Linked DNA regions of Homo sapiens. The protein of the gene in region 1 purifies or fractionates together with the protein of each later gene. This does not show direct contact. Each region holds a gene or a part of one and is shown in the gene's direction. Other genes may lie near its edges. The genes, in order: CYP4B1 and DFFA.

The links.
Region 2: the proteins of CYP4B1 (region 1) and DFFA purify together in Homo sapiens (co-immunoprecipitation; one large-scale study listed by IntAct). This does not show direct contact.

What each region holds. Positions count from the first base shown.
Region 1 is NC_000001.11:46,812,459-46,816,271, forward strand, and holds part of CYP4B1 (cytochrome P450 4B1), read left to right. Parts: intron 1-37; coding exon 38-165; intron 166-1,023; coding exon 1,024-1,148; intron 1,149-1,450; coding exon 1,451-1,605; intron 1,606-1,750; coding exon 1,751-1,857; intron 1,858-2,615; coding exon 2,616-2,806; intron 2,807-3,813. UniProt on the Homo sapiens protein: Cytochromes P450 are a group of heme-thiolate monooxygenases. In liver microsomes, this enzyme is involved in an NADPH-dependent electron transport pathway.
Region 2 is NC_000001.11:10,459,203-10,462,769, reverse strand, and holds part of DFFA (DNA fragmentation factor subunit alpha), read left to right. Parts: exon of another isoform or gene 1-1,067; coding exon 1,068-1,280; 3' UTR 1,281-3,567. UniProt on the Homo sapiens protein: Inhibitor of the caspase-activated DNase (DFF40).

The sequences.
Region 1 (3,813 bases):
GGACTGACCAGCCCTCTCTCTCCCATCCCTTCCCCAGGGAGAGGCCTGCTGGTTCTTGAGGGGCCCAAGTGGTTGCAGCACCGCAAGCTGCTCACACCTGGCTTTCATTATGATGTGCTGAAGCCCTATGTGGCCGTGTTCACTGAGTCTACACGTATCATGCTGGTGAGCTCCCTGTGCCAGAGTACTGGAGGCTGTTGCCTGCTGGGCTAGCCCCTCTCCACCCTGATTTTGTCCTGGGGAGAGTAGGTGGTGCTCTGCAGTAAGGAGAATAGCTGAGCCCCAAGGCCTGTTCTGCCTGCAACAGCAGTGCCAAAGCCCTGCTCTACTGACATGTGCCGCAGGCTGCCACTGAGTCGGTGCTGAATCTCTAAGTGTCCTGGCAGCCCGATCCTTGTCTCCACCAGGAGACCCAGCCCTCTTTCCTCCCAGGCCAAAGGGTCTCTGTGAGAACTTAATAAGGCTCCTAGCATAGCAGGTTTGAGGACTGCCTATATTTGAGAGTATGGGGAAAGGCTTTCACATCTAAAACGTGTCTCCTCATTTTCTGTCTACCACAGCTGCCCAGAATTATGTCAATACAACTCATCTCTAAGAGGGATGTCAGAGGTCAGGGTTAGAGTCTTAGGGCTGGGTAATCCCTAAGTTATCCAGGCTAGTCTTTCCCCTTGTAGGAAACTCCCCTCCAGGATTACTTACATATACACCATGCGGGGGAGCTCACCACCTCTCAGCCATCCTACTCCCTTATAGGCTGCCCTGACTGGGAGAAAACGTCTGTGTGCTGTGCAAGATCTGCCTCCTGGTCCTGCCCTCTGAGCCTGAAGCCCAGAGGCTTCCAAACTTCTACCCACCCTATCCTGATATTCCAGCAGGATGGAGGGCAGGACAGGGACTGGGAGTGTGTGAAGGGGGCTTGGTGGTGGAGGATAGGCTACGGGTCCTGGAGGGCAGCTTGGGGCATCCAGCCCAACTAACCCCTGCATCGCCTCCTACACATTGCCTCCTATCCCTGGACTCCAGGACAAGTGGGAAGAGAAAGCTCGGGAGGGTAAGTCCTTTGACATCTTCTGCGATGTGGGTCACATGGCGCTGAACACACTCATGAAGTGCACCTTTGGAAGAGGAGACACCGGCCTGGGCCACAGGTCAGGAGCCACCTCGGGGCTGACCGCACTGTCTCCAAAGCCATCTTAGAGGGGAGAGTTGGCAGGGGTCCTGGGCTCTGATCTGAGAAGAGATAGGGTCCTGCCCCAGGGAGCCTTAGCTTGCGGGGAGACAGGACCTGCTCATGGTGGGGTAAACACCTGGCTTTAGCAAGGAGGCTTAAGGGCAGGGAGAAGAAGAGCAGGATGCTCTGTGGTTGGGGCTAGATTCCTGGAATGGAGTTTCTCTGGCTCTGCTCCTGGGCCAGTGTCTAAGCCAATCCCTCCTCCTACCCTCTGCTTAGCAGGGACAGCAGCTACTACCTTGCAGTCAGCGATCTCACTCTGTTGATGCAGCAGCGCCTTGTGTCCTTCCAGTACCATAATGACTTCATCTACTGGCTCACCCCACATGGCCGCCGCTTCCTGCGGGCCTGCCAGGTGGCCCATGACCATACAGGTGGGCCTTTCCCACAAGGCTCACCTCTAGGAAGCCTGGGTTCCTCCTCCTGGCCCCTCTATGCCCCCTCCCATTATAGGACCCCAGTTCCCCTTTGGACAAAAGATGGCTTCCCAGGCAGTGACACTCTGTGCTTTTGGTTCAGACCAGGTCATCAGGGAGCGGAAGGCAGCCCTGCAGGATGAGAAGGTGCGGAAGAAGATCCAGAACCGGAGGCACCTGGACTTCCTGGACATTCTCCTGGGTGCCCGGGTGAGTACATTGTTGCCCACCCCTACCTGAGGACTGGTCCCAGAGAGGTCTTCAACCATCCTCCCAGGACAGCAGAAGGAGCTCTTAAGCATTTCCCCCTTTCCTCAGCAAATATAACCTGTTCCTCGTCCCATGAAACATATTAGCAGGGGTTCAGAGGTGGGCAGGTGTAGGGTGTGTGTGCCTGAGCTGTGGAGTTGGGAGCCTAGGTCACGTGGTAGTGGCTGGACGACATTTCTAGACTTCTAAGATCCCCCAAAATGTTGGCCTTGTAGAATCCTAGAATCTTAGACTTCATTCATTCATTCATTCATTCAGTAAGTTCTTTATTCATCAATTCTAGAAACTCACTGAGTTCTGACTCTGGGTCATTTCCGTGCTAGGATGCAGAGATGGGAAAGACCTGGCCCTTCCTTCCAGATGCTTACAGTCCAGCAGGGGAGACAGTAGGTAGATGTTGACCAAAATGTCTTCCTCTGGCAGGTGGTATTCTATGTGCCCAGTGAGCAGAACAGTCAGGGCTGGACAAGGTCACAAGTCATTTGGCCAGAGCATTTAGGGAGGGCTTTGTGGAGGAGGAGGCATCCAGGCTGAGCTTTGAAGGAATATAGGAATCTGGGGGAAGGTCCTAATCCACCCTCTGAAAAGGAGCTTTCACTCCCTCCCAGAGACCTTCATTTGACAACCACCATTATGAGTTCTTCTTGTTACCCACCTCCAATACCTCAAGCTGTCCTATTATGCCTTCCCTAACCCAGGATGAAGATGACATCAAACTGTCAGATGCAGACCTCCGGGCTGAAGTGGACACATTCATGTTTGAAGGCCATGACACCACCACCAGTGGTATCTCCTGGTTTCTCTACTGCATGGCCCTGTACCCTGAGCACCAGCATCGTTGTAGAGAGGAGGTCCGCGAGATCCTAGGGGACCAGGACTTCTTCCAGTGGTGAGTCTGAGGGTGGGCCCGGTTTATCCTGCTCAGCCCTTGGGAAGGGCGATGCCCATCCTGTCCTGAACCATCCTGGAAATCAGGTGAGGTGGCGGCTGCTATCCTGTTACCCCCAGTGTCATACCTTTTGTGGTGGTGGGGGGTGGGGAGAGTGGTTGGCTGGGCACAGATGCACCCCTGAGCCCATTCTCCCAAAATGGAGCCTTTCAGAAGTGTTATGTAGAGAAAGTTGTCAACAAGAGGCTGATATTTTGTGTGCTAACTTCTTCTGACGGTAGAACCTGATTACCCTTCTGGGTCCCTGGATAGAGTAGGGAGAGCTGGGAGAGAAAGAGGTGGAAATGTGGGGGTGAACAGAGCTGAGACAGCTGGGAGAGCCAGTTCCTTGCTACTTGCCTTTGGATGGCAATACTCAGCTTCCAGATGCCATATCTCTCCTGCTGGTGAAGGAGAAAAGACTTCCCCAAACTTCATCACTTAAAAACTTTCCATTGTTTTCCCCTGTTTCTTGGCTCAAGACTGAACTCCTAAACACTTAAGGATTGACCCTGACCTCTCTGCAGTGTGATCTCTGGGAGTCTCTCAAGAGGCTCCTTCACCCTTGCTGGCTGCCTGTTCCCCTCAGGCCTTTGCTTGTGGTCAGACAACCTGCCTTTCTCTCTGGGCTCCTGAGCAGCCTCCAAGAGGGGGCTAGGCACACAGCAGGGGTACAGAAAATGCTGAGCCAGAGGGGGAACTTTAGATCCACTTGAAAGGGACTGACCTATAACTCCAGGGTCTAGGACCTGGAGTATGAAGCCTCCATTACCATTTCTGTTGGTCATATGTGAGAATCCCCCCCCCACGGGGTATCCAGACACATGCCAGGTGCTATCAGGGGTGCAGAACGGAAGAGAAAGAGAAGCCATGCTGCTCGTGGGGAGTTTTATGGAGACAAATTCACATAATCAAACAGCGAGAGAAAAATCACAGGATCACGTGGTCTGAATGTTGAGGGCAGAGGG
Region 2 (3,567 bases), about 36 Mb from region 1:
GAGATGGCTTCTGGGTCTTTCCATGGTCAGAGAAGATCTATAGTCCGTCCTGAGGTCTGTCAATGTCACAGGAAAAGGCAAACTTGAGGGGATCGTCGCCTGCTGGCTAAGACCAGGGAGCTAAAAACTTGAGGAAGGGAACCTGCCTGGGTGGGTGCTACTTCTGATTCATTGTCCTTGTCCCTGTCATAAGTACCTCCCTATTGTAGATAGAAGGGAAGGAAACTGTTGACTTGAGCTTGGCTAAATTTCCTGAAGGTGGAGGACCTTAGAGTTGCTCCAAGTAAACTTTCCAAGGACTTCTTCCTGTTGGTGTTGTAAGAAAAGGCCCATGCTTGTCCGGGCACAGTGGCTTACGCCTGTTAATGCCAGTACTTTGGGAGGCCGAGGCAGGTGGATCACCTGAGGTCAGGAGTTCGAGACCAGCCTGACCAACATGGCGAAACCCCATCTCTACTAAAAATACAAAAATTAGCCTGGCATGGTGGTGGGAGGCTGAAGCAAGAGAATCACTTGAACCCAGGAGGTGGAGGTTGCGTGAGCTAAGATCGCGCCACTGCACTCCAGCCTGGGCGACAAGAGTGAAACTCCGTCTTAAAAAAGCCCATGGCAGGCTGGGCGCGGTGGCTCACGCCTGTAATCCCAGCACTTTGGGAGGCCAAGGTGGGCGGATCACAAGGTCAGGAGATCGAGACCATCCTGGCGAACACGGTGAAACCCCGTCTCTACTAAAAAAAATACAAAAAAATTAGCCAGGCGTGGTCGTGGGCACCTGTAGTCCCAGCTACTCAGGGGGCTGAGGCAGGAGAATGGCGTGAATCCGGGAGGCGGAGCTTGCAGGGAGCCGAGATAGTGTCACTGCACTCCAGCCTGGGTGACAGAGCGAGACTCCGTCTCAAAAAACAAAAAGCCCGTGGCAATTAATGGTAAAGGAAACCCGGCATTTCAGTGTAAAGAGGTAACATAAACGGATACTGCCTCATTGCACTCCCCAAAAGAGAGTCAGGAGAGCAGCAGGAGAGGCGCACAGAAGGCCCAGTTCTCAGGGGTTTTTATTCTTGCTGCAGTTGGTTACCAAGGAAGACCCCAAAGCACTGGCTGTTGCCTTGAACTGGGACATAAAGAAGACGGAGACTGTTCAGGAGGCCTGTGAGCGGGAGCTCGCCCTGCGCCTGCAGCAGACGCAGAGCTTGCATTCTCTCCGGAGCATCTCAGCAAGCAAGGCCTCACCACCTGGTGACCTGCAGAATCCTAAGCGAGCCAGACAGGATCCCACATAGCAGCAGCGGGAAGTGTGCCAAGGAAGCTCTGTGGCGTTGTGTTATTGGTAGACACCCTCAGCCTCATCATTTGACTACCTATGTACTACTCTACCCCCTGCCTTAGAGCACCTTCCAGAGAAGCTATTCCAGGTCTCAACATACGCCGTTCCACCAATTTTTTTTTTAGCCCCACCAGCTTCAGGACTTCTGCCAATTTTGAATGATATAGCTGCACCAACAATATCCCGCCTCCTCTAATTACATATGATGTTCTCTGTTCAAAAGTAATTGGCAGTGATTGGCCAGGCGCAGTGGCTCACGCCTGTAATCCCAGCACTGGGAGGCCGAGGGGGGCGGATCGTGAAGTCAGGAGATCGAGACCATCCTGGCTAACATGGTGAAACCCTGTCTCTACTAAAAATACAAAAAAAATTAGCCAGCCATGGTGGCGGGCGCCTGTAATCCCAGCTACTTGGGAGGCTGAGGCAGGAGAATGGCATGAACCTGGGAGGCAGAGCTTGCAGTGAGCTGAGATTGCGCCACTGCACTCCAGCCTGGGCAACAGAGCGAGACTCCGTCTCAAAAAAAAAAAAAAAAAAAGTAATTGGCAGTGACTATGGGCGCACTGCCTAACATTTAGCCCTGCCCCATATGGAACATGTTAAAAAAAAAAAAAGCCAGGCCGAGCGTGTTGGCTCACGCTTGTAATCCCAGCACTTTGGGAGGCCGAGGCGGGTGGATCACGAGGTCAGGAGATCGAGACCATCCTGGCTAACACAGTGAAACGTGTTTTTACTAAAAGTACAAAAAACTAGCTGGGCGTGGTGGCAGGAGCCTGTAGTCCCAGCTACTCGGGAGGCTGAGGCAGGAGAATTGCTTGAACCGGGGAGGCAGAAGTTGCAGTGAGCCGAGATTATGCCACTGTACTCCAGCCTGGGTGACAGAGTGACACTCTGTCTCAAAAAAAAAAAAAAAAAGGACAGGCACGACAGTGGCTCACACCTTTGATCCCAGCACTTTGGAGGCCGATGCAGGCGGATCACATGAGGTCAGGAGTTCAAGACCAACCTGGCCAATATGGTGAAACCCCGTCTCTACTAAAAATACAAAAATTAGCTGGGCATGATGGCGGGTGCCTGTAATCCCAGCTACTCGGTAGGCAGAGGTTGCAGTGAGCTGAGAGCGCACCACTGCACTCCAGCCTGGGTGACAGAGCTAGACTCCGTATCTCAAGAAAAAAAAAAAGTTTTGTTTTGTTTTTTTGAGACAGAGTCTCACTCTGTCACCTAGTCTGGAGTGCAGTGGCACATTCTCGGCTCACTGCAACCCCCACCTCCCAGGTTCAAGCGATTCTCCTGTTTCAGCCTCCTGAGCAGCTGGGATTACAGGCACGTGCCACCATGCCCGGCTAATTTTTGTATTTTTAGTAGAGACAGGGTTTTGTCACATTGGCCAGGCTGGTCTCAAACTCCTGACCTCAGGTGATCCACCCACCTCAGCCTCCCAAAGTGCTGGGATTACAGGTGTGAGCCACCACCCCTGGCCAGAAAAAAAAGCTTTTAAATAAAGTAATTGTCAGCTTAGGCAACATAGCAAGACCCTGTCTCTACAAAAAAAAAATTTAAGTTAGCCAGGCATGGTGGCACTGACCTATAATCCTAGCTACTCTGGAGGCTAAGGCGAGAGTATCACTTGAGCCCAGGAGCTCAAGGCTGATCATGCCACCATACTCCAGCCTGGATGATAGAGTAAGACCCTACTTTTTTTTTTTTTTTTTTAAAAAGGTAACCATCAAGGGCAATGAAAAGAAATGGTCGTATTTCCAATTCATTATCCTTATTCTGAAGATAGTACGGCAGAATTTTAAGCAGAGATAGTGGTGAAGATGGTGACATTATAGAGTGTTGACTATGGCCACAATCTTGTTTCTCCAGTTAATGAATTTTTTTATGTGTTTGTTTAAAGATACATATTAAGCTTGTAGACCATAGGGACATACGGAGAGTCCATTGCTAATATCTCACTCAGTATTGTGAAATTCTATCTCACCACCGTGAAACTCTTCAGTTTTCTAATTGCTTTATCAGCAGGGGGTATAAAAGGTCATGAAAGCAATTTCCACATGCTGTGGCTCCAGGTCTCTGGGTGTGAAGCAGAGCAAGCCTGGTTTGTCCTCCTCCTGTCTCCACACAGACGGCTTCTGCAGGTTTGGTAATCTACAGTACACTCCTTGCAGGGAAAAGGTGATGAGTCATCATGGACTTATTTGACCACTTTTTATGCATGCTTAGAGGAAAACAGAATA